Regions from separate parts of the Homo sapiens genome. Here regions 1, 3, 4 and 5 are each linked to region 2. Evidence: fine-mapped expression QTL. A gene starts in region 2. Each other region holds a variant in brackets. All regions are shown on one strand. Distances are between the middles of the regions.

Evidence for each region. PIP is the estimated chance that this variant, and not a neighbour inherited with it, causes the effect.
Region 1: its variant is the best candidate, but not a certain one, in a credible set for the expression of SLC47A1 in whole blood (TOPMed, PIP 0.71).
Region 3: its variant is the best candidate, but not a certain one, in a credible set for the expression of SLC47A1 in whole blood (TOPMed, PIP 0.55).
Region 4: its variant is the best candidate, but not a certain one, in a credible set for the expression of SLC47A1 in whole blood (TOPMed, PIP 0.58).
Region 5: its variant is the best candidate, but not a certain one, in a credible set for the expression of SLC47A1 in whole blood (INTERVAL, PIP 0.68).

The regions. Positions count from the first base shown.
Region 1 is chr17:19,567,929-19,572,928 of GRCh38, forward strand. SLC47A1 (solute carrier family 47 member 1) reads left to right here. Exons shown (of 17, transcript NM_018242.3): 15 at 3,550-3,644; 16 at 4,852-4,933. It overlaps LOC105371578 (a long non-coding RNA gene), which reads right to left and starts at 3,550. Exons shown (of 3, transcript XR_934310.4): 1 at 2,917-3,550. The variant T/G (reference allele first, on the strand shown) is at 2,742.
Region 2 is chr17:19,531,241-19,536,240 of GRCh38, forward strand. It overlaps SLC47A1 (solute carrier family 47 member 1), which reads left to right and starts at 2,614. Exons shown (of 17, transcript NM_018242.3): 1 at 2,614-2,834. The coding sequence starts at 2,700.
Region 3 is chr17:19,460,806-19,465,805 of GRCh38, forward strand. It overlaps LOC105371574 (a long non-coding RNA gene), which reads right to left and starts at 166. Exons shown (of 3, transcript NR_188341.1): 1 at 1-166. RefSeq lists enhancers at 1-462, 2,103-2,648. The variant T/G (reference allele first, on the strand shown) is at 3,007.
Region 4 is chr17:19,474,435-19,479,434 of GRCh38, forward strand. No RefSeq gene overlaps it. Among named protein-coding and RNA genes, the nearest start is that of TRW-CCA2-1, 31 kb to the right of the region's middle. RefSeq lists an enhancer at 672-1,509. The variant A/G (reference allele first, on the strand shown) is at 2,014.
Region 5 is chr17:19,669,861-19,674,860 of GRCh38, forward strand. ALDH3A2 (aldehyde dehydrogenase 3 family member A2) reads left to right here. Exons shown (of 10, transcript NM_000382.3): 9 at 1,861-2,096. Among named protein-coding and RNA genes, the nearest start is that of ALDH3A2, 24 kb to the left of the region's middle. The variant A/G (reference allele first, on the strand shown) is at 2,548.

The DNA.
Region 1 (5,000 bases), 37 kb after region 2:
CTTCCCACATTTGGAAGAAAAAACTTAATCCACAGCATCTGAAATTACCAGAGCTAATCTTTTTAAAAAGTACGGAAATAAATGACTGCCCAGCTTTGATTTCTAAAATAATAATTTGGAACATATTGGCAGTTAATAAATGATGATATGAAAACCTGGACATTTATCTTTGGGGTGAGTAGTGACTGACTTAAAGCGTGGCTTGTTTTGATTCATCTGTACTTGGCAGGCTCAGAGGTGGTGAGAAGTCAACTGATACCTACAGGGAACTTCCAGTTCAGTATGTTCCTTTATGTGGCACATTTTTCTCAAGTTCAATAATATTTTAATTAAAAATACAGGAGTTGTTCAAAGAATAGTATTGCCAATGCAAAGTTCATTGGGCTTGCATGATAGTGCAGAAAATTATTTAGCTGAGTTTCTGGTGCGATTCATAGTTTGGATTTGCCAATTGCCTAGCTAATGCAAATATTATAGAAATCTAATTTATTTTTATTTTTAAAGTAATGTATTTTATGTAACACAATATGTCTAAAATTATTGCAACGTGCAATCAGTATAAAATATTAAGGAAATAATTTAAATTCTCTATATTATATCTTTTAAACTTTAAATTGACAAATTATAGTTGTATACATTTATGGGGTACAGTGTGGTGTTTTGATATATGTATAAAATGTGGAATGATTAAATTAAGCTAATTAACATACTTATCACCACTTATTTTTTATGGTGAGACATTTGAAATTTACTTAGTTAATTCAAAATGTGCAGTACATTGACTACAGTCACCCTGGTGTGCAATTGATCTCAAAACTTATTCTTCCTGTCTATCAGAAATTTGTACCTTAACAACTCCCCATTCCCATGCCCTCCCCTCCTTGCCACCAGTCCCTGCTAACCATCATTCTACTCTCTACTTCTATGAGTTCAACTTTTTTAGAAGAGGAGTCTACTTTATTCTCCTGTTTCATTTTTTACAGATGGGGTCTTGCTATGTTGCCCAGGCTGGTCTCAAACTCCTTGACTCAAGTGATCCTCCCACCTTGGCCTCCCAAGTATCTGGGATTACAGGCATGAGGAACCTGCTTTGAAATATAAATCCATCTGTATCCCAAGTGCCGTCCTTGGCTCACCTATTCATTTAACAGAATATATCTAGGCCAGGCACAGTGGCTCATGCCTGTAATTCCAGCACTTTGGGAGGCTGAGGTGGGTGGTTCACTTGAGGTTAAGAGTTTGAGACCAACCTGGGCAACTTGGCGAAACCCCGTCTCTACTAAAAATACAAAAATTAGCCAGGTGTGGTGGTGTGCGCCTGTAGTTCCAGCTACTTGGGAGGCTGAGGCACAAGAATTGCTTGAACCCGGGAGGCGGAGGCTGCAGTGAGCAAGATGGCACCACTGCACTCCAGCCTGGGCGACAGAGTGAGACTCTACCTTAAAAAAAAAAAGCGTAACTAATTGTGCAAAGTAGAAGAGGAAGTTGAGAATCACTGAAAAGAAATGGTGGGGGCCCTGGGGATGTGAGGGCTCTATGAGAAGCCTATAGTCAATCCCCCCCACCCACCTATTAGAAGAAATTGTGGTACGAATTGGTTTTGAGTATTGTGTCTCCTGGTATGGTATGCAGTATACCTATACAAGGTGTCTAGGAGAGCATCAGAATTCTGCAGGTTCTCAGAAGCAACCTCAGGAAATCATAATGACCCTCAGAATCCCTGGGAGACATTTTAAATATGTAAATTCCTGGGCCTTGCCCATGAGATCTAATAATCATCCCACTTTGGGCTCATAGGTTGGGTCAAATAGAAATCTTTTAAATGATGTATGCTAAAATTATTGGAAATCTAATTCATAACTTTCAAATTATAGCTGGAGTTAGCTGGTTATTTCCTGTTTAAGGTGGTTCAGGTGAGCTTGTAGTTTCTATGTACTGAGAACACTGGATTTGAAAGAGGAAGCCAGTAGCTTGCTTTTACTAATTTTTTATAGGACTAGCAGGTGGCACCAACTATACTATTCTAAGAGCAGGCTAGGCTGGGCGTAGTGACTCATACCTATAATCCTAGTGCTTTGGAAGCCAAGGCAGGAGGATCACTTGACTCTAGGAGTTGGAGGCTGTAGTGAGCTGTGGTCATGCCACTGCTCTCCAGCCTGGGCAACAGAGCAAGACCCTGACTCTAAAAAGCAAACAAACAAACAAAAGGGCAGGCTGATCATACCTGAAAAATGTGATTGGTACCAAGAAACAGAGCTGTAAAACCTGTACCGAATCCATAAACCAGGAACCCAGACTAGCCACCTTAACCCTTACATAGATCTGGACAGCTGTGGAAATAAACCAGGACCAACCAAGCAAGACAAGCAAAGTCTGTGTATTCTCAGCAAGGGTGTTGGCTGCCACCACTTGCATTTGGGCAGAAACTCAAAGGCAGGCAAAGGAGTGGGAAAGCGTCACAGTGGATAAAAGGGGAGGCTGCAGGTGTGTCCTGAGTGGAGATTGTTGATCTGGGGGATGCTGGAGGTGGCTGACTAGAAATGGGCCTCCCATGTGATTGGTTAGGGGGATGTATTTTACTTTCTCTGGTTGGTCCTAAGTTGGAAGTGCAGACCAAAATTAGGCAAGCTGTCAGTTGCTAATCAAGTCCTGGCCATCTGGGGCCAATCGTTACAGAAGTTACTGGTTAGCTTCCTGGATTGTTACCAAAGGCAGCGATCTTGCTTCCTGCAAGTCTGATT[T/G]AGGGAAGGCTGGCTTCCTGGGTTTATTGTAGATGGGGTGGGGTTTCTTGGGCAGGGTGCTGCAGGTTGTGAGGCAGAGGTCTGTTTTTATTACGGTCAGGACTTTGTCTCTTGGTTATTGTTGGAGCTTTTGGTTCTGCCATTAGTTTACTGTTGACCAAAAAACCCTCCTCACCTGGGGTCTCCCTCTGTGCCCTGTGTGGTGCCTTGAGATTCACAGGGCTTTTCCCGCCATCCATTCCCACCTGGCCTGCCTTTGGTGTTCTCCAGTCATCTGTAGGTGCTCAGCCCTGCTCTGGAAGCTTCTAGCAAAGTCTGTGTCAGAAGCAAGTTAAGGTCCAAGGTCTGGCAGGAACTCTGAGGAAGAGAACATTAGTAGTTTATATGGCTAGTGATTTCTGCTTTTTTTTTTTTTAATGTTAGTCCCCTTTTTTGAGGAAACCAGGGCAGAAGTAGTTGGTCCTGGGAAATTTTAATTTCCTTATAACTGGCATTTTTCTTAATATTCAAGCATTATAATCAGTAAGGCCAAAAATATCCTCTGAATATTTGTTCCGAAATCCTGAACCAAAAGAGATGGCCCTTTTGGGGGTGGCCTCAAGGAGTACTGGGCTTTCCAGAACCTTCTGGAACCTTCTGGAAGCCTGAGGAGGAGCAGGATAGAGGTCTCTGGCCCGCTGTGGGCTCCACCTCAGCCATGAAAGCAGATATTCAGTATGGCTGACAGAAGTGATATAGGCAAAACATACTCCCCAGGGGCAGCTGGTTTTCTATGGAATTAACCTCTATTAAATATTTCTATTTCTAGGTCTGTGGTCAGGGATCATCATCTGTACAGTCTTTCAAGCTGTGTGTTTTCTAGGCTTTATTATTCAGCTAAATTGGAAAAAAGCCTGTCAGCAGGTAACTATGTTCATTCTGTCCCGGTAAAGGTTCCTCTCCTAGAAAAACAGGATCTGATCTGGCTCTCCCTTTTTTCTTTTGGAAAGTTCTTTTCTCATTTTCTTTATTCTTATCTCATGAATACTATTGTTCTTGTTGTTTTAACTAGACAGTTCAGATGTGAAGGGCCAGATGATCCTGGCTTTATCTATTCCCAGAAAAACAGGGGACTCCTTTCTTCCTTGTCTCCCATGCCAGGCTGTCACCCTTGTGCAGGAAAATCCAATTTCAGGACAAGAATTAGAACTGGAGAGAAATGTGGGATGCATCAAAGTCATCCTGATGTTGTTTTTATGGTCTCCAAATGTTTTGTTAAGATACTTGTGTGCATCCTTCCCTTCAACTTTCTAGGGTCAGTGTGAGGTCTAGAAATAGGTGGTAGAAAAATGAGATGAGTCGAGGTACAGTGGCTTATGCCTGTAGTCCCAGCTATTCAGGAGGCTGAGGCAGGAGGATCGCTTGAGCCCTAGAGTTCGAGGCTGCAGTCATCTGTGATCACTGCACTCCAGCCTGAGTGATGGAGCGAGACCCTGTCTCTACAAATAAAAATGTTTTAAAAAGAAAGAGATAAAGTAAAAAGGGAGAGTTCTAAATGATCTTGGTCCCTCTCTTGTCCCTGTCTCCCTCACCCTGTACTGTTCCCATCCCACCTTCCCTTTCATGGACCCCATTTCAGCCTTTTCTGTTTTCTTTTTCTTAAGAGACAGGCTCTCACTCTGTCACCCAGGCTGGACTATAGTGGCAGGATCACATCTCGCTGGAGTCTCAACCTCCTGGGCTCAAGTGATCCTCCTGTCTCAGCCTCCCAGGTAGTTGGGAATACAGACATGCGCCACCATGCCTGGCTGTTTTTTTTGTTGTTGTTGTTATTTTTTTGTTTTTAATTTTTTAATTGAGATGGGATCTTGCTGTGTTGCGCAGGCTGGCCTTGAATTCCTGGGCTCAAGCAATCCTCTCTCCTCAGCCCCCCAAAGTGCTGGGATTACAGGTGTGAGCACTGAGCCTGGCCCCATTTCAATCTTTATGAAAGATGACCTGTGAATGAGAGGAACTTCAGCTATACATGCCAATTAAGGAAAATGGCTTGGCTCTTCCTAAACTAGGTGGTCAAGTAAAATACCATATTAACACTATTGTGAAGCCTGATGGACTGAGTTTCATTTTCCAGGCTCAGGTACACGCCAATTTGAAAGTAAACAACGTGCCTCGGAGTGGGAATTCTGCTCTCCCTCAGGATCCGCTTCACCCAGGTAAGATATGACTCCCTCAGCCCTTGGACAGGCCTGTCTAGGTAGGACTGGAGGGGCTGTTAGTGAG
Region 2 (5,000 bases):
AAGTAACAGGGTTCTTTGTTCTTTTAATTGTTTTGTTTTTTGTTTTTTATTGAGATAGGGTCTCACTCTGCTGCCCAGGCTGGAGTGCTGTAGTGCAATCATAGCTCACTGCAGCCTCAAACTGCGGGGCTCAGTCGATCCTGTCACCTCAGCCTCCCAAAGTGCTGGGGCTACAGGTGTGGGCTACTCACCTGTACAATGTGCTCAGCCAACCACACGTTGTTTTAAAAGCTATTTACCAGCCAATAGAGCTACTTCTTTCCTCCTTACTTTTCTTTTTCAGAGTTTTTGTTATATCTTTTCCTGTTTACACTATCAATTGCTTTTAGAATCATTCTATTAAATTTTAAAATAATGGAATACACAGTAGTGGACTAAAACCTAATATATTAATTGAAAATTAATTTTCCTGTGCTACTTTTTGGAAGGAAGTCACTGTGTACAATCCACCTTTAAGGAGTGAGGAGTTATGCTCTGTATCACGAGGACCTTTTGTTTTTTGTTGCTATTGTGAAAGATTTCTTTTAGTATTTTCATATATGTTATTACCAATATAAAGGACTGATATGACTTGTTGAAGAACTTCTATGTAGCAACTTTATTAAACCCCTTTATCAATTCTATTAGCTTTTGTTCATATTTTATTTCTTTGGGTTGTGTGGATTTTTTTTAAGAGATGGGGTCTCACTGTGTTGCCCAGGCTGGTCTCAAAACTCCTGGGTTCCAGTGATCCTCCCACCTCGGCCTTCCAAAGTGTTGGGATTATAGGCATGAGCCACTGTGCCTGGCCCGGTCTGTCAATTTCTACTGTGAGTAATCCCTTTGCCTTTTCTTTCCTAACATTATACATTACATTTCCATTTCCTGTCTTATTACATCAGTCAGGACTTCCAGAAAATTATCAAAAAACAGCAGTGATCAGAGATCTAGTGAATATCCTCGGGTATTTGTCTGTTGACACTCTCAGTTCTTTTGGGAAACTGCGCTACTCCATATGTACAGTCCTTGTGGGACGAGACCAGTCACAGGGCACCTAACCCTAACCCTGTAGGTTCAAAGCTGGGTGCATGGTCCAGGGCCAGCCAAACATCAGACCCTATTTTCCCACCCAGGGCGATTGTTCCAGAGGTGGGCAAGAAACCTAAGCAGGGCCAACCAGATTTTCTCCCAGTTTTTTGTTTGTTAGTTTGGAACCAGAAGAGAGGAGGGGAGGGCCTTACTTTCTGGTTTAACAGACGGGAAAGATAGGAACGAGGGTATCAGAGGCCACCACTGTCACTTGCACAGGAAGAGAAAGGCTGCCGGCAGAGGAGGAAGAGAAACTACGGAAAGAATCCCAAGGGGCGAGGAGAAGGGAGGAGAGGGACAGAGATGGGAAGAGGGACAACAAGAATGATCTGGTTTTGTTTTTTTTTTTTTTTTGAGTGGAGTCTCCCTCTGCCACCAGGCTGGAGTGCAGTGGCGAGATCTCGGCTCACTGCAACCTCTGCCTCCCGGGTTCAAGCAATTCTCCTGCCTCAGCCTCCCTAGTAGCTGGGATTATGGCGCGCGCCACCATGCACAGCTAATTTTCGGTACAGACGGTGTTTCACCATGTTGGCCAGGATGGTCTCGATCTCTTGACCTTGTGATCCGCCCGCCTAGGCCTCCCAAAGTGCTGGGATTACAGGCGTGAGCCACCGCGCCTGGCCTAATGACCTTGTTTTCAAATCCCTGAATCCAAACTTCCTGATTATGTGAGCCAAAAAATTTGTTTTCCATTTTCTCTACTTACATTGGATCATTACAACGGAAGGAATTTTGACTATTAGAGAAATCAATCTTGTCCTGGTAACTGACACTTATTAGGTAACGGCTGGTGCCAGGCTGAGGGCAGGTGGCACTGACTCCGGTCCTCCGCCCAGGCAACCCCAGTCTTCACAGCTGGCGACGAGTGTTCTTTCACGTTTGCAGATGAGGAAGCTGAGGCTCTGGGAGGAAAGCGCGCTGCTCCTGCCCTTCTGGGCCGCAGCCTCTCGTACTCCCACAGCAGGCTTGATGGATAAACTTCCAACACGACCAGCTGGCACAAACTGTGCTACTTGGCAAATGGGAGCATGTTGCTCTATCCTGGTAGATTCTAAGTTCTCTAATGGAACAACTGATGAGAGGAGAGGAGTATGCAACACCCTAACCAGCATCAAAGGGTGTACCCAACTCAATCTGCACAGCAAATGCGCCCAACCCCACACACCCCGCGGGGTGCTAACCGAGTCACGGCTCGAGGCCTCTGGGTCCTTCCACGCCAGGTCATTCAGAACCTGAAACCCCCAGCGGAGGTGGAGAGCCGGGGTGAGTCCTGGCGTCCGAGACGTGGAGGACCCAGCCCCCGGAGCGCGTTCCGTTAGTTTACAGAGCTTTTTCAAACTTTGCCTTCCAAGTGCAGGAGTTCCTTGGTCTTTGCAAGACCCGCAGGCGTCCGCAGTGGTGCAGAGAGAGGTGCAAGGGGCGCGCCCAAGGTCGCAGGCTGCCTGGCTGCGCGCTCAGTCGGGCCCCCGGGCGCCAGGCGCGGGGCGGGCTCTGGGCGGGCGGCCGGGGCGGGGACTGCAGAGCAGGCTGCACTGCGCGGTACCCACTGCCGGCCTGCGCGGTACTCACTGCCGGCCTCCGCGGTACCCACTGCCGGCCTCCGCGCTACCCGGCCGCAGCGCGCGAGTCACATGGAAGCTCCTGAGGAGCCCGCGCCAGTGCGCGGAGGCCCGGAGGCCACCCTTGAGGTCCGTGGGTCGCGCTGCTTGCGGCTGTCCGCCTTCCGAGAAGAGCTGCGGGCGCTCTTGGTCCTGGCTGGCCCCGCGGTGAGTAAGGTGGCCTCAGTGGCAGGCCGGTACCGGCGGGCTGGGGACCTGGTGATTTCTGCCTCCGCGGGTGACTTTGGCGGGCTTTGGGGACCGAGCGAGCTGTCCGCCGGCGGGCTCCGGGGAGCATCGTGCCAGGAGCCGGGCGGGCACCCCAGCTCCTCTGCCTGCGTCCCGGCCGCTTTCCGCTCCGCACCACCCGACTGGGGGCCCCGCGGGGCACTGCGGGAACGGCTGGTACGCGCCCGGGCGCATGTTGGCTCGGAGAGGCCGGCGGCTCCAGCCTCCTGCGCCAGGAGACACCGGAGAGCTGGGACCTTTGCCCCTAACGGGGCTCTACCAGGTCCAGGCTGCATTTGCATCCGGGGGTGCCTTCTCTGGGAGCTGATTCCGGCCAATAAAACGCAAGTTGCCTGAACTTCAAAACACAAGGGAACTTGTTTCTTTGAAAAGTAGCGGTCAAAAGTTCGGGAGCTCTGCGATCTAAATAATCCCGAGGCACGGAGGAGGGGGTGCGTGGTCTGTCGTGGACTCAGAGCTGCGAAATGATTTCTTCAGAATTCAGTCAACCTCTACCGAGGAAACCAGAGGCATCCTGTACCACCCCCTCCCCGCCAGTAATTATGTATGTGAAAGAAAAAAGGGGTTTTAATGTGGTTCTTTGTGGGGTCGAGGTGTTCTTATCTGTGGGATTCTTTTCTTTTTAATCATTAGGTTAGGGCTGTTTCTGCCTTGTCTCCTAAAAATAATGTGGTTTTAAAAACCACAAAAACACAATCCTATCCACGTTCTCCTGCCAGCTTGGGTGGTTTTCAAACCGAGAGGGTAGGACGCGGCACAAGAAGCAACTGGTATGCACTTAAGGCGTGAATAAGCTTTTGACTTTGAGGCCCACATTCTGCACCTGCGCGGGCTGAGGGGGGCCGCTGTGCCTCTGGAGTGGGGGCTCGGTAGTTTGTGGGATATTGTGGCACCCGCTGTGGTGTGCAGGACAGCAAGGGTAATGCCGAGGTCAAAGCCATGGAATAAGATCCATCAGCCATGCTTTCTCACAGACCAGAAAGAACTCATGATTTGGGGCTGGGCGCGGTGGTTCACGCCTGTAATCCCAGCACTTTGGGAGGCTGAGGCAGATGGATCACTTGAGGTCAGGAGTTCGAGACCAGCCTGGCCAATATGGTGAAACTCCGTCTCTACTAAAAATACAAAAATTAGCCAGACGTGGTGGCGGGCGCCTGTAGTGCCAGCTACTCCAGAGGCTGAGGCACGAGAATCGCTTGAACCTGGGAAGTGGAGGTTACAGTGAGCCAGGATGGTGCCACTGCACTCCAGCCTGAACAACAGAGTAAGACTTGGTCTCAAAAAACAAAACAAAACAAAACAAAAACACCTCATGGCTGGGCGTGGTGGCTCACGTCTGTAATCCCAGCACTTTGGGAGGCCAAGGCAGGCGGATCACGAGGTCAAGAGATTGAGACCATCCTGGCCAACCTGGTGAAACCCCGTCTATACTAAAAATACAAAAAATAAAAAATAAAAATTAGCTGGGCATGGTGGCAGGCGCCTGTAATTCCAGCTACTTGGGAGGCTGAGGCAGGAGAACCGCTTGAACCCGGGAGGCGGAGGTTGCAGTGAGCCCAGATCGCGCCATTGCACTCCAGCCTGGGCAAAAAAACACCTCATGATTTGGAATCTCAAGACCTGGGGCTGCGTGCCCTGCTTTGACCTCCGAAAGTAAGTCAGGAAGCAGCTGTGCAGATTGAAACAGCCTCCTAACCTCTTCTGGTCTCTGCATATTCATTTGTAAAATGGAGATAATAATCATGTCTTGGTTCAACACTCCCTCACAGAGCTGCTGTGAGAAGGGGCTTTCTAAGGCTATTATTGTTTTATTATTATTATTATTTTTTGAGACAGGGTCTTGATCTGTCGGCCAGGCTGGAGTGCAGTGGTGTGATCACAGCTCACTGCAGCCTCAACTTCTGGAGTAGCGGAGATTACAGGCACACACCACCATGCCTGGCTAATTTTTGTATTTTGGGTTAGAGATAGGGTCTCCCTGTGTTGCCCATTGCTTGAATTCCTGGGCTAAAGCAATCCTCCTGCCTCGGCCTCCCAAGAGCTGGGATTATAAGCATAAGCCACCTTGCCCAGCCTGTTATTGCT
Region 3 (5,000 bases), 70 kb before region 2:
GGGTTCAGAGACTTGTCCTACATTCAGTTGGCAGTGGGACCTTGGATAGGTCATCCTCTCTGAGCCCTAATAAATTCACCAATAAACTGGAAACATCTCCTGATTGGTCACGGGTGGAAGGTCAGTGGGATGGAGAAGGATGACTGTGGGCAGCTGGGAGTACTTCCCTAGAGGGAGCCAAGTGGGCAAGCAGCCCCAGCATGATGTCACAGATGGCCCATTGTGACTTATATTTAAAATTTATATTCAAAAGGGAAGCAGAGCATAAAAGTTTGGAAATTTTGCAGCTTGAGCATGTGGCAGAAAAAGTAAAAGCACTATCAGGGGAAGAATTAAAGCAGGCTGCAGAATAATCATTTGCTAGAGAAATTTGCATAACTGAAAGGGAGCCAAGTGCTAATTAACAGCCAAGACAATGGGAAAAGGGCCTCAAAGGCATTTCACAGACCTTTAAGGAAGCTCCTCCCATCACAGGTGCAGAGGCCTAGAAAGAAAGAATGGTTTTATGGGCCCAGCCTGAAGTGTGCCCTGTGCCACTTAGGGAGGCTCCAGCTCCAGCCATGGCTCAAAGGGCCCTAGGGACAGCTTGGGCCACAGCCACAGAGGGTGCAAGCCATAAGCCTTGGTGGCTTCCATGTGGTGTTAAGCTTGTAGGCTGGCAGAGTACAACAGTGAATGAGGCTTGGCAGCTTCCCCCTAGATTTCAGAGGATGTATGAGAAAGCCTGGGTGCCCAAGCAGAAACCTACAGCAGGGCTGGAGCCCTCAGAGAGAACCTCTACTAGCACAGTATTGCCCAGCCTCAGGTATTCCTTTATAGCAATGCAAGAATGGCCTAACACAACCAGAAAGCCTCAGGACCTTTGGCCAACAAGCGAATAGAAACTAGTGTGTGGGACAGAGCACCATGTGGCAAACACCTGAGTAGAAAGAGAAAACCTCCGAAGAGGTGGAATAGTGGAAATGTGGGGTTGGAGGCCCCACACACAAAATCCCCACTGGTGCACTGTTTAGTGGAGCTCTGGGAAGGGGGGCTAATGTCCTCCAGGCCCTGGAATGGTAGAGCCACTGGCAGCTTGTACCCTTGTGCCCAGAAAACTGTGACAGGAGCGACGGGAGCTGAACCTTGCAAAGCCACAGGGGCGGAGCTGCCCAAAGCCTTGGGAGTCCAGACCTCATGCCAGTGTCCCTGGATGTGGGACATGGAGTCAAAGGAGATTCTTTTAGAGTTTAAGTTTTTTTTGTTTTGTTTTTGTTTTTTGTTATTTTGAGACAGGGTCTTGTTCTGTTGTCCAGGCTGGAGTGCAATGGTGTGATCTTGGCTTACTGCAACCTCCACCTCCCAGGCTCGAACGATCCTCCCACCTCAGCCTTCTGAGTAGCTGGGACCACAGGTGCACACCACCATACCCAGATTATATATATATATGTATGTTTATATATATAATATATATGTGTATGTTTATACATTATATATAATATGTATAATATATGTGTGTGTATGTTTATATATAATATATAATATTAATATTATATGATATATTATATATATAATATTATATATATGTGTGTGTGTATATATATGTAGAGATGAAGTTTAGCTATGCTGTCCAGGCTGGTCTCAAACTCTCAAGCTCAAGTGATCCACCTGCCTCGGCCTCTCAAAGTGCTAGGATTACAGGCATGATCCACCATGCCCAGCCTGGAGCTTTAAGATTTAATGACTGCCCTACTGAGTTTCTGACTTAATTGGAGCCTGTAGCCCTTTCCTTTTGGCCAATTTCTCCCTTTTGGAACAGGAATGTTTACCCAATGCCCACTTCCCCATTGTATCTTAGAAGTAAATAACTTGTTTTGATTTTACAGGCTTATAGATGGAGGAAGGAAATGAGTCTCAGATGAAACTCTGGACCTGGACATGGGACTTTGTGTTAATGCTGGAATGAGTTAAGACTTTGGGAGACTATTGGGGCCAGGCATGGTGGCTCATGCCTGTAATCCCAGCACTTCGGGAGGCCAAGACAGGTGGATCACTTGAAGCCAGTTGGTCAGACCAGCCTGACCAACATGGTGATACCCCGCATCTACTAAAAATACAAAAATTAGCCAGACACGGTGGCGCATGCCTGTAATCCCAGCTACTCGGATTGCTGAGGCATGAGAATCACTTGAACCCAGGAGGCAGAGGTTGCAGTGAGCCAAGATAGTGCCACTGCACTCCGGCCTGGGCAACAGAGTGAGGCACTGTCTAAAAAAAAAAAAGACTTTGGGAGACTATTGGGAAGGCATGATTGTATTTTGCAATGTGAGAAGAATATAAGATTTGGAGGGGCCAGGGGCAGAATGATAGAGTTTGGATGTTTGTCCCTGCCCAAACCTCACGTTGAGATGTAATCCCCAATGTTGGAGGTGGGGCTTGGAGGGAGGTGCTTGGATCGTGGGAGCAGATTCTTCGTGGCTTGGTGCTGTCCTCGTGATAGTGAGTTCTGCTGAGGTCTGGTTGTTTAAGTGTGCAGCTTCACTGGTGCAATGCTTTCTCTGCTTCTGCTTTCCCCATGTGACATGCTGCTCTCACTTCCCCTTCCACCACAAGTAAAAGCTCTGACACCTCCCCAGAAGCTGAGCAAATGCTGGTGCCCTGCTTCCTGTACAGCCTGCAGAACCGTGAGCCACTTAAACCTCTTTTCTTTATATTAGGTTGGTGCAAAAGTAATTTGCAGCTTTTGCATTAAGAAAAAGTAGCAAAAACTGCAATTATGTTTGCACCAATCCAATAAATTGCCCAGCCTCAGGTATTCCTTTATAGAAATGCAAGAATGACCTAACACATCCAGAGAGCCTCAGGACACCTGGGCAACAGGGGAATAGAAGCCAGGGTGTGGGACAGAGCATTGTGTACTGAACACCTGAGTAGGAAGAGGAAACCTCCGCTGGGTGTGGTGGCTCATGCCTGTAATCCCAGCACTTTGGGAGGCTGAGGCAGGTGGATCACCTGAGGTTGGGAGTT[T/G]GAGACCAGCCTGGTCAACATGGTGAAAACCTGTCTCTACTAAAAATACAAAAATTAACCAAGCGTGGTGGCGCATGCCTGTAATCCCTGCTACTCGGGAGGTTGAGGCAGGAGAATCACTTGAACCCGGGAGGTGGAGGTTGTGGTGAGCCGAGATCATGCCATTGCACTCCAGCCTGGGCCACAAGAGCCAAACTCCATCTCAAAAAAAAAAGAAAAAAGAAAACCTCCAAGGAGGAACCCTGTAGAAAACTGCAATGTGACACGTGTTCACTGCACGTGGCACAAGCCGGAGAAGAAAATGTAAATAAAGCCTAGGAACAAAAACTCAGAGCCCTAATGAGTAAGTTTGGATTTGCAGGAGAGGGGAAAGACACGCTTGGCACTCACAGCCTCACTGAGTACATTTTCTCCACCTAAGTGAGTCCACATGTTAATTTACTCATCGGGGAGCAGCCAGCACAAAGCCTGTCCCCCCCAGTGATATGAACACCCTGGCCAGGCACATGCAGCCAGCAGTGCATCCTCACTGGGACCATATCCATGGCTCCTGTGCTCTGCGACTCTGCTCCTGCCTGGGTAAGGCTTCTGTCCCCACAAAGACCACCACTGTTCTGCTTTTCTCCCACTCTGGGTAAGTTTTGCCTATTCTGGAACCTCCTATTCATGGGCTCATACAATATGTTCTCCGTTGGGAACTATGTTCTTTTTGTGCAGCGTGAGGCTGTGTGTGCCAGCGGTGCTTTTATTGCTGAGCAGTGTTCCATTGTGTGCCTGACCACAGATTGCTTTTCATTCTGCTATTGGTGGAATCCTGGGATATTTCCAGTTTGGGGATACTATGAATGAAGCTGCTATGAACATCCTTATACGAATCTTCTGGTGAAGTCATCATAGAATTTGGAGACCAAGTTTTTGCCATCATTTATTCGGAGCCTAAAGGACCAGACGAAAAACCTGCCCAGGGTCACACAAGACTGAGAAGCCCAGTAAAGCACTCTCTGACGTCAGCGACTCAGGTCCTTTGGTCCTGTGCCTGGCTTGGACAGAGTCAGGCTTGTTCAACACTCTCTCCCCATCACCTCAGGTTCCCCATATCCCATTTACAACATCAGGATTAGCTCCCAGGCTTCTGTGGGGTGAAGAATGGGGACTGGTTTTCCTGTTTCACTTTTAGCCTGGGCTTAGGCTATGAGCAGGTCAGAAAGGGGCAATGAGGCTGGTTGCAGTGGCTCATGCCTGTAATCCCAGCACTTTGGGAGGCCAAGGCGGGTGGATCACCTGAGGTCAGGAGTTCAAGACCAGCCTGGCCAACATGGCAAAACCCCATTTCTACTAAAATACAAAAATTAGCTGGGGGTGGTGGTGCATCTCTCTAATCCCAGCTATTGGGAGGCTGAGGCAGGATTGCTTGAACCTGGGAGGCGGAGGTTTCAGTGAGCTGAGATCACGCCACTGCACTCCAGCCTGGGTGACAGAGCGAGACTTCATCTCAAAAAAAAAGTGGGGGGGGGGTGGCAAGGAGAGCAATGAGATCATATTTCCCATGTGCTGTGTGAACACTGGTGCTCTGTGAAAGGGCCACATACGCAAAGCAGCCCCAAACGCAGAAGGAGCTGAGAAACCAAAGAACAAGGCACACACATCCAGTGTGTCAGCAAAGGGTGGTTTATTTGGGGAATTTAAGGCAGAAGCATGGTCTTGGGTGACAGCAAGACAGGTGTCCACACTCCCAGACCCAGGGCTTGTACACCATGGAGAAAGTGTGCATTGCTCTACAGAGACAATGGCAGCAATCCAGAGCAGGCAGGAATGCTGTGCATCATAGCCTAGAATTTGTGTGATAACATCAGGGTTGACACGTTCTCACACTAAGGACAGGAAATTAAGTCCAGGCCCTTTCATGGAACACCAGTGTTCCATGGTGTTCCTGATTAAGTGTAGGAATCAGGAGGCATTCCTGGGACTGGAGCTAATCAGAGTCAACACGGCAG
Region 4 (5,000 bases), 57 kb before region 2:
ATTTTGAGGATATTTAAAATGTAATTATTTTCTTAATTTTATTTTTGAATTATTCATTGCTAGTATATATTTTTTTATTTTTAATTTCTTTTTTTTAACATTTTTTTAAGAGATGGGATCTTGCTATGTTGCCCAGGCTGGTCGTGAACTGCTGAGTTCAAGCACTCCTCCTTGGCCTCCCAAAGTGCTGGGATTATAGGTGTGAGCCACCACACCCAGCCCATTGCTAGTATGTAGAAATACAATGGATTTGGCTGGGCGCAGCAGCTGATGCCTGTAATCCCAGCACTTTGGGAGGCAGAGGTGGGCGGATCATGAGGTCAAGAGATCAAGACCATTCTGGCCAACATGGTGAAACCCCATCTCTACTAAAAGTACAAAGATTAGCTGGGCGTGGTGGCGCTCGCCTGTAGTCCCAGCTACTCGGGAGGCTGAGGCAGGAGAATTGCTTGAACCTGGGAGGCGGAGGTTGCAGTGAGCTGAGATCACGCCACTGCACTCCAGCCTGGCGACAGAGTGAGAATCTGTCTGAAAAAAAAAAAAAAAAAAAAAAAAAAAAAGCAATGGATTTTTGCATAGCAATCTTTTATCCTGCAAACTTGTGGAATTAAAACGTTTTAGTGGATTCCTTAGGATTTTCTGCATATCCTGTGGATTCATCTGGAATAGGGATAGTTTTACTTCTTCCTTTCCAATCTAGATGACTTTTATTTCTTGTTTTTGTTTAAAATCTCTACTACAAGGTTTAAAAGAAGTGATGGTCTTCTAAGTTCTTGATCTTAGGACTGGGGTAAAACATCTGTCTTTCACTATTAAGTGCAATGTTAGCTGTAGGCTTTTCTTAAGGTGCCCTTTAGAAAAATCCCACGCTCCCTCTCCCTCCCCCTCCCCCCTCCCTCTCCCTCTCCCCACGGTCTCCCTCTCCCCACGGTGTCCCTCTCCCTCTCTTTCCACGGTCTCCCTCTGATGCCGAGCCGAAGCTGGACTGTGCTGCTGCCATCTCGGCTCACTGCAAACCTCCCTGCCTGATTCTCCTTCCTCAGCCTGCCTAGTGCCTGCGATTGCAGGCGCGCGCCGCCACGCCTGACTGGTTTTCGTATTTTTTTGGTGGAGACGGGGTTTCGCTGTGTTGGCCGGGCTGGTCTCCAGCTCCTAACCGCGAGTGATCCGCCAGCCTCGGCCTCCCGAGGTGCCGGGATTGCAGACGGAGTCTCGTTAACTCAGTGCTCAATGTTGCCCAGGCTGGAGTGCAGTGGCGTGATCTCGGCTCCCTACAACCTCCACCTCCCAGCCGCCTGCCTTGGCCCCCCAAAGTGCCGAGATTGCAGCCTCTGCCCAGCCGCCACCCCGTCTGGGAAGTGAGGAGCGTCTCTGCCCAGCCGCCCATCATCTGGGATGTGAGGAGCACCTCTGCCTGGCTGCCCAGTCTGGAAAGTGAGGAGCGTCTCTTCCCGGCCGCCATCCCATCTAGGAAGTGAGGAGCGTCTCTGCCCGGCCACCCATCGTCTGAGATGTGGGGAGCGCCTCTGCCCCGCCGCCCCGTCTGGGATGTGAGGAGCGTCTCCGCCCGGCAGCCACCCCGTCCGGGAGGGAGGTGGGGGTCAGCCCCCCGCCCGGCCAGCTGCCCCGTCCGGGAGGGAGGTGGGGGGGTCAGCCCCCGGCCCGGCCAGCCGCCCCGTCCGGGAGGTGAGGGGCGCCTCTGCCCGGCCGCCCCTACTGGGAAGTGAGGAGCCCCTCTGCCCGGCCACCACCCCGTCTGGGAGGTGTACCCAACAGCTCATTGAGAACGGGCCATGATGACAATGGCGGTTTGGTGGAATAGAAAGGGGGGAAAGGCGGGGAAAAGATTGAGAAATCGGATGGTTGCTGTGTCTGTGTAGAAAGTAGAAGACATGGGAGACTTTTTTTTTGTTCTGTACTAAGAAAAATTCTTCTGCCTTGGGATCCTGTTGATCTATGACCTTACCCCCAACCCTGTGCTCTCTGAAACATGTGCTGTGTCCACTCAGGGTT[A/G]AATGGATTAAGGGTGGTGCAAGATGTGCTTTGTTAAACAGATGCTTGAAGGCAGCATGCTCGTTAAGAGTCATCACCATTCCCTAATCTCAAGTACCCAGGGACACAAACACTGCGGAAGGCCGCAGGGTCCTCTGCCTAGGAAAACCAGAGACCTTTGTTCACTTGTTTATCTGCTGACCTTCCCTCCACTATTGTCCTATGACCCTGCCAAATCCCCCTCTGCGAGAAACACCCAAGAATGATCAATAAAAAAATAAATAAAAATAAAAATAAAAATAAAAATCCCACGCTATTCCAAGACTGTTGGATGCTGACTTCCCTTTCCTAGACTTTATTGTGAAAGGGTGTTGGATTTTGTCAAATGCTTTTTCCATGTCTATTGGATTTTTTAGATTCTATTGATATGGTGTCTTACATTAATTGATTTTGGGATTTTAAACCAGCCTGATATTCCCTGGACAAATCCCACTTAGGCATGTCATATAGCTCTTTTTACATTTTGCTGAATGTGGTTTGCTCTGGATTTTGTTGAGGATTTTTTTCCTCTATATTTAGATTAGACATTGATCTGTAGTTTGCTTTTCTTGTGATATCTTTGATTTGGGTAGCAGGGTAATACTGGCCTCATAGAATGAGCTAGGAAATGTTCCCTCTTCTTCTGTCTTTTGGAAGAGTTTGTAAAGAATTTATATTACTTCTTTAAATGTTCAGGAGAATTTTCCTGTAAAGCCCTCTGGGACTAGGCTTTCCTTTGTGGGTAGTTTACTAATTCAATCTCTTGTTATAAGTTTATTCATATTTTCTGTTTCTTGTGTCAGTTTTGGTAATTTGTGTGTCTCTAAGAATTTGCCCATTTCATCTAACTTACCTAATTTGTTAGCACTTAAGTGTTCGTAGTATTCCTTCATAATCCTTTTTGTTGGTAGTAACGTCCCCATTCATTCTAGTCCTTCATTTCTAATTCTAGAATGGAGAAGAATATGTGTTCTACTGTTGTTGGGTGGAGTGTTCTAAATGTGTCTATTAGTTGATTCATAATGATGCTCAAGCCTTCTATTTTCTTCTTGCTCTTCTAATTGTTCTATCTATTAAAAGTGGGTGGAGCCGGGCACAGTGGCTCACGCCTGTAATCCCAACACCTTGGGAGGCTGAGGTGGGCAGATCACCTGAGGTCAGGTGTTCAAGACCAGCCTGGTTAACGTGGAGAAACCCCGTCTCTACTAAAAATACAAAATTAGCCGGGTATGGTGGCGCATACCTGTAATCCCACCTACTCTGGAGGCTGAGGCAGGAGAATCTCTTGAACCCAGGAGGTGGAGGTTGCAGTGAGCCGAGATCTCACCATTGCTCTCCAGCCTGGGCAACGAGAACGAAACTCCGTCTCAATAAATAAATAAATTAATTAATTAATTAAATGTGGGGTACTGAAGTCTCCAACTATTATTAACAGCTTTATATTTATCCCTTCAATTCATGTATTTTGGGACTCTGTTGCTAGGTACATATATTATTTATAATTGTTATTCTTCTGGATGAATTTTGTCAATACAGATGCTCCTCAACTTAAACAATGGGATTACATCCTGATAAGCTTATTGTAAGTTGAAAATTTGGTACGTTGAAAATGCATTTAATATACTGAACCTACTAAACATCACAGTTTAGCCTAGCCTATCTTAAACAAGCTCAGAACACTTACATTAGCCTAGAGTTGGACAAAATCATCTAACACAAAGCCTATTTTATAATAAAGTGTTGAATATCTCATGTAATTTATTGAATATTGTACTGAAAGTGAAAAACAGGGCCTCTAATCCGCGGCTCTGGCCAGGCCCACCGTGCCCTGCACTGGGGGTCCTGGCAGCCACTAAATATTTTTGTTTAATTTTTTTAAAAATCAAAAGTATGAAGTATGGTTTCTACTGAATGTGTCCTGCTTTCCCACCATCATAAACTTGAAAATTTTATCCAAATCATTTTAGTCGGGGACCATCTGTATGTAATGTTCCAATTTGTCTGTGGTAAAGTTAGTTTGTTTTGTTTGGTTGGTTTTGGTTTTTTTGAGACAGGGTCTTGGTCTGCCACCCAGGCTAGAGTGAAGTGTGTGACCATAGCTCACTGTAACTGTGAACTCCTGGGCTCAAGCAATCTTCCTGCCTCAGCCCTTTTTCTGGGGCAGGTGTTTCGGGGGACAGGATCTTGCTCTGTTGCCCAGGCTGGAGTGCAGTGGTGCAATCTTGGCTCACTGCAACCTCCGCCTCCCAGTTTCAAGCGATTCTTATGCCTCAGCCTCTTGAGTAGCTGGGATTACAGGCACATGCCACCACTCCCAGCTAATTTTTGTATTTTTGTGGAGATGGGGTTTCGTCATATTGGCCAGGGTGGTCTCGAACTCCTGACCTCAAGTGATCCACCTGCCTCAGCCTCCAAAGTGCTCGGATTACAGGCGTGAACCACTGCGCCTGGCCTATAAAGAATAACTTCTGACATTTTGCTATTTGTTTTCCATATGCCCTACATCTCTCTCCTCCTTCAATTAGTTCATTAACTGCGGTTTCTTGTGTTTGATTTTTTCTAGAGTATTTTTTGTTGTTGTATCTACCAACTTAGCACATTTCAAGTCTTTAATATACTATTGTTAACTACATTCACATTGCTGTACATTAGATCCACATCCTCACTAACATGTTCTTTTGTCTTTTTCATAATAGCCATTTTAACAGGTGTGAGGTGATACCTAATTGTGGGTTTGATTTGTATTTCCCTAATGATTGGTGGTGTTGAGTGCCCTTTCATATACCTACTGGCTACTGTATGTATGTCTTCTTTTTTTTTTTTTTTTTTGAGATGGAGTCTCACTCTGTCACCCAGGCTGGAGTACAGAGGTATGATCTCAGGTCACTGCAACCCCCACCTTTGGGGCCCAAGCAATTCTCCTGCCTCAGCCTCCCATGTAGCTGGGAAAACAGGTATGTCCCACCACA
Region 5 (5,000 bases), 140 kb after region 2:
AATTCCTGGGCTCAAGCAATCCTCCCACCTCAGCCTCCCAACGTGCTGGGATTACAGGTGTGAGCCACCGTGCCCGGTCAAATGCACGCATTTTAGAGACAGACAACTAATAAGTAGTAAAGCCAAGAAATGAGCCAAAGTTGTCTGGCTCCAAAACCCACATATTCAACCAATCCAGTAGTTTGCTCTTTAGGACACAGTACTATTTCAATACCTAAAAGTAAAAGCTCCTCATTATTACTGTTTTTCGATGTTTTCTTGCTTGTTCTTATCTAAATTTATTTTTCCAGATGATCTTTGGAATCACTACCTCCTCCTACTTAAAACAAACAAACAAAACCTTCCGAAATCCCCTAGGATTTTTATTAAAATTGATTTAAACTTAAATTATTTTGGGAAGAATTTATATCTTTAAAATGTGGAGTCTTAATGGGAATATGTTATATCATCTCTTCATTTATATAGCCCTTTTATATCTTTCAACAAAACTTTGTAATTTCCTTCATGTCAGTTTTTTGCTTTTTATTTATTTTTTGAGACAGGGTCTCACTCTGTTGACCAGGCTGGAATGCAGTGTGGCACAATCATAGCTCACTGCAACTTTGAACTCCTGGGCTCAAGCAATCCTCCTGCATCAGCCTCCCAAATTTTTCCCAGTTTCTTACTACCTTGGTTATGTCTTTGGCTCGCCCCTCCCTTATTCTTTTTTTTTTTTTTTTTGAGACGGAGTCTCGCTCTGTCGCCCAGGCTGGAGTGCAGTGGCGCGATCTCAGCTCACTGCAACCTCCGCCTCCCAGGTTCAAGCAATTCTCCTACCTCAGCCTCCCAGGTAGCTGGGACTACAGGCGTGCGCCACCACGTCCAACTAATTTTTGTATTTTTAGTAGAGACGGGATTTAACGATGTTGGCCAGGATGGTCTTGATCTCTTGACCTTGTGATCCACCCGCCTTGGCCTCCCAAAGTGCTGGGATTACAGGCGTGAGCCACCGCACCCGGCCCCCTCCCTCATTCTTTACCCTCCCTCAGAGTTAGGGTTTCTCATGGTCTTGTCCTTGGGTCTCTTCTCACACCAGGCCTGCTTCATGAATGATTCCTTCCTGCAGCCTGGCCTTGGTAAACTGCTCCCTGGCCTCTGGTCACCTGTGTCTTATATCACACATGCCATTCCCTCTGCCCAGCTCACACTGCTCCGCTTTGTGCCTGTCAGTCTGTTGTACACACAATGAATTAGAGAAATGAAACTGTCACAGAGCATGGCTTTGTGGAGGGCAGAGATTTACACTTGCTTATTATCATCCAGCTGTGCAACCTTGTTGCCCTGTCTTACTTTCCACAGGCTTTGAGAAAGCAAGTGGGTGTGTGGGGCCATGGATGAATGAAGCCACATGGGATGGTGGGAAGAGAGCACATATAGCATTTAGAGTCTGATCCAGGTTCGGGTTCTGGCTTTGCCACTTAGCAGCCGTGTGACCCTGGGCAGGTTAACTGACCCTGTAAGCTCCCTTTCCCTCTCTGGAAATGAGGCTGCTGATAATTCACCAAGTGGGATTGTGGTGAGAATTATCTTAAGAGAATGATTTAACTCTTAGCACAGTCCCTGGCATAAATGAGAGCCACAGCTCTAGAAGAGGTGCAAGTCCTTGTCTTGCTCATGGAAAGCATCCTGTTTGACAGGGAAATTGACTTTTCCAGGGAAGTTGGTAAGGACTTCCTGAAAAGAGATACTTCAGCTGGCAGAGATGTTCAGTGGGGTTCCCAGGCAGCAGGGAGTGCATGTGAGCTTTCCCGGTCGTTGTTAGACAGAAGTAGCTTGCATCATCTACAGTGAAGCTTGTTTTGTCTGTTCCCTTTATTTCAGGTTCCAGTGGGATGGGAGCTTATCACGGAAAACATAGTTTTGATACTTTTTCTCATCAGCGTCCCTGTTTATTAAAAAGTTTAAAGAGAGAAGGTGCTAACAAACTCAGATATCCTCCCAACAGCCAGTCAAAGGTGGATTGGGGAAAATTTTTTCTCTTGAAACGGTTCAACAAAGAAAAACTCGGTCTCCTGTTGCTCACTTTCCTGGGTATTGTAGCCGCTGTGCTTGTCAAGGTGAGTCCCTATAACCCATGAGTGCCATTCAGTCTGGTCCTGGCCTGATGGCTGCCAGATGCATATTCTAGCAGGACTCTACATTAACTTGTAGAGTCTAAGACAGGGTCAGTGAACCACAGCCTGCTGGCCAGCTACCCGTTTTTGTCACTGAAGTTATTGGAACACAGCCACACCCACTTGTTTAATCATCCACAGCTGCTTTCATGGGACAGTGACAGAGCTGAGTAGTTGCAACAGAGGCTGAATGGCCCTCAGAGCCTAAATTATTACAGAAAAGTTTGCTGATCTCTGGTCTAAGAGATTAAAACAGCGTAGAACTTGATTGCAGAATTCTGAGCTGTCTGATCAAAGGGTTAGCCCTTTGATCCTTTTGGTATTGGACTTTCCTTGTCACTTACAGCTTTGTTCTTGAATGTGCATGAAATCAGCTTACCACAGAGGTGAAGGC[A/G]AGAACTCTGGTACAACAGCTTTGGTGAGGGATATTTTATTAGGCTTGAGTTTTTTTCCTCCAAAGTTCACTACCTGATAAAGTTTATCTTTGGTGATTAGTCATTATAGGGATGGGCTTGCAAAGAGGCCCTCATGATAGCTGCCTTCTCAAAGCAGTTTGCGTATTTTGAGATGAAAGAGGAAATCCGTAATTAAAGTTAAGATGGAATGAGGAAGGCAATTGTGTCTGTGGTGCCCTCAGCCGTTCAACTGAGGATATAACATTGAAAATATTGACCATATCAGTGAAGAATGGGCTTGGAAAAGGCAATGGTAATAGTTGTGTTTATGTTTTGTTTAAAATTTGAAAGGGGGCCGGCGCAGTGGCTCACACCTGTAATCCTAGCACTTCGGGAGGCTGAGGCAGGGGAATCACGAGGTCAGGAGTTCAAGACCAGCCTGACCAATATGGTGAAACCCTGTCTCTACTAAAAATACAAAAATTAGCCAGGCATGGTGGCACGCACCTGTAGTCCCAGCTACTCGGGAGGCTGAGGGAGGAGAATCACTTGAACCCGGGAGGTGGAGGTTGCAGTGAGCCAAGATCATGCCACTGCACTCCAGCCTGGGCAATAGAGCGAGACTCCATCTCAACAACAACAACAACAAAAATTTGAAAGGGGTTTGGCTCATCTTACAGTATCCCAGCCTTAGTGGAATTGGAGATACCAGTTGCATTTGAAATCATTTGGGTTTTCTCAGAAATACCAAGCTGTGCTGAGGAGAAAGGCCCTGTTGATTTTTCTGGTAGTTCACAGACTGCGTTGGTCCAGTAAGCAGAGATGAACACCAGATTTCAAAACCCAGCCCTGTCTGTTAAGAGTGAGGTAGGAACTTTTTGTTTTCTTTCTATATGTAAGGTGGGCCAAGTTGGGGTATGTTTTCAAGGGTTTTTTGGTTTGTTTTTGTTTTTGTTTTTGTTTTTGTTTTTATTTTTGTTTTTTTTTTGCTACAGTTGGAGGCTTAAGGGTTATTGAAAAAAGAATGGGCCGGGCGCAGTGGCTCACGCCTGTAATCCTAGCACTTTGGGAGGCCAAGGCAGGTGGATTGCCTGAGTTCCGGAGTTCGAGAACAGCCTGGCCAACATGGTGAAACCCCATCTCTACTAAAAATACAAACGTTAGCTGGGTGTGGTGGTACGTGACTGTAGTCCCAGCTACTAGGGAGGCTGAGGCAGGAGAATTGCTTTAACCCGGGAGGCAGAGGTTGCAGTGAGCCAAGATTGTGCCACTGCACTCCACCCTGGGTGACAGAGCAAGACTCCGTCTCCAAAAAAAAAGAAAGAAAAAAGAATGTTTAACTTACTTATCTCTAGACATTTTGGACCTGGGCCCAGAGTATCAGGGTGTTAAAACTCCACTTATCCACAATTTTAAAAGGGTGAAGTGACTTGCTAGGAATCTAAGAGAAGTGTGCAGAGGCAATGGCTTAGCTGCGTCCAGGTGAAGCATACATCATTTCTTGGAAAAGGGCAGCTGAGTGTGAGCCTCATTTCTCTTCCCCTTCTACTCAGCTCTCCTGGGGGAGGTGCCAGCTGACTAATTCAGACTTGTCACCATCTAGGCACTGAACTCTTTATGTCATAATTTAAGAATATGTTTTTTAAATCACTAAGTAGTTTTGATTTGTTTTCATTTTTAAAAAAAGGTTTGACTTTGGAATTCATGGCAGCAAATGTCGTGAAATCAAGGTGTAGTATACAATTTAGGGGCTACTTTCTTTGCCTTCCTGAGGCTGGAGGTGTGGTCGGAAGCTTACTTGGGTCTCTGGTCAATATCTGTCTCTTTTGTTCTTTTCCCAAGACCTCGGTTCCTCAGTTTGATAATGCATCTTGGTAGGATAGAATATTTTAGCCTCATGGAAAATACGGAGGCCCAGGCTGAGTCTGCATTCTCCAATCTTACCAAACCCCCAAGAAGCCTCCCTCAGGTGCAGTGCAGTGTGCCAGGCAGGTTCGAGTTCCCAAAGGGTTTGGCAGGCATGTTTCTCTGTGAGGGTCTAGAGAAGCAGCAATATATAAAAGAAGCAGCAATATATAAAACCTTTAGCAGAAACAAAAAAATGTGGTTTGATTCCTGGCTCAATGAACTTGGGCAAGGCCTTTTCTGAGCTCTTTCTTGGGCCTCAGCTTGCTCATCTACAGGGTGAGGGAGTAGGTGTCAGTGATTCCCCAGGCCACTTTCAACCCTTCCGCTCAATTCTCATTACTAATAGTTGTTAATATTTCTTTGGATTCAATCTGGAACTAGGTAGAGATTTGGTTTTCTTTTCCACTTTGCTGCTTTTCTGCTCCTTTCTGAGCTTTTAATCCTCTTTTTATCAAATTACCTTTTATTTAAAATAAATGACTTTGAATCTGTACTGTATATTTACCTGAATAGTCTATTTATTGTAATTACATTTTTCTGAAAT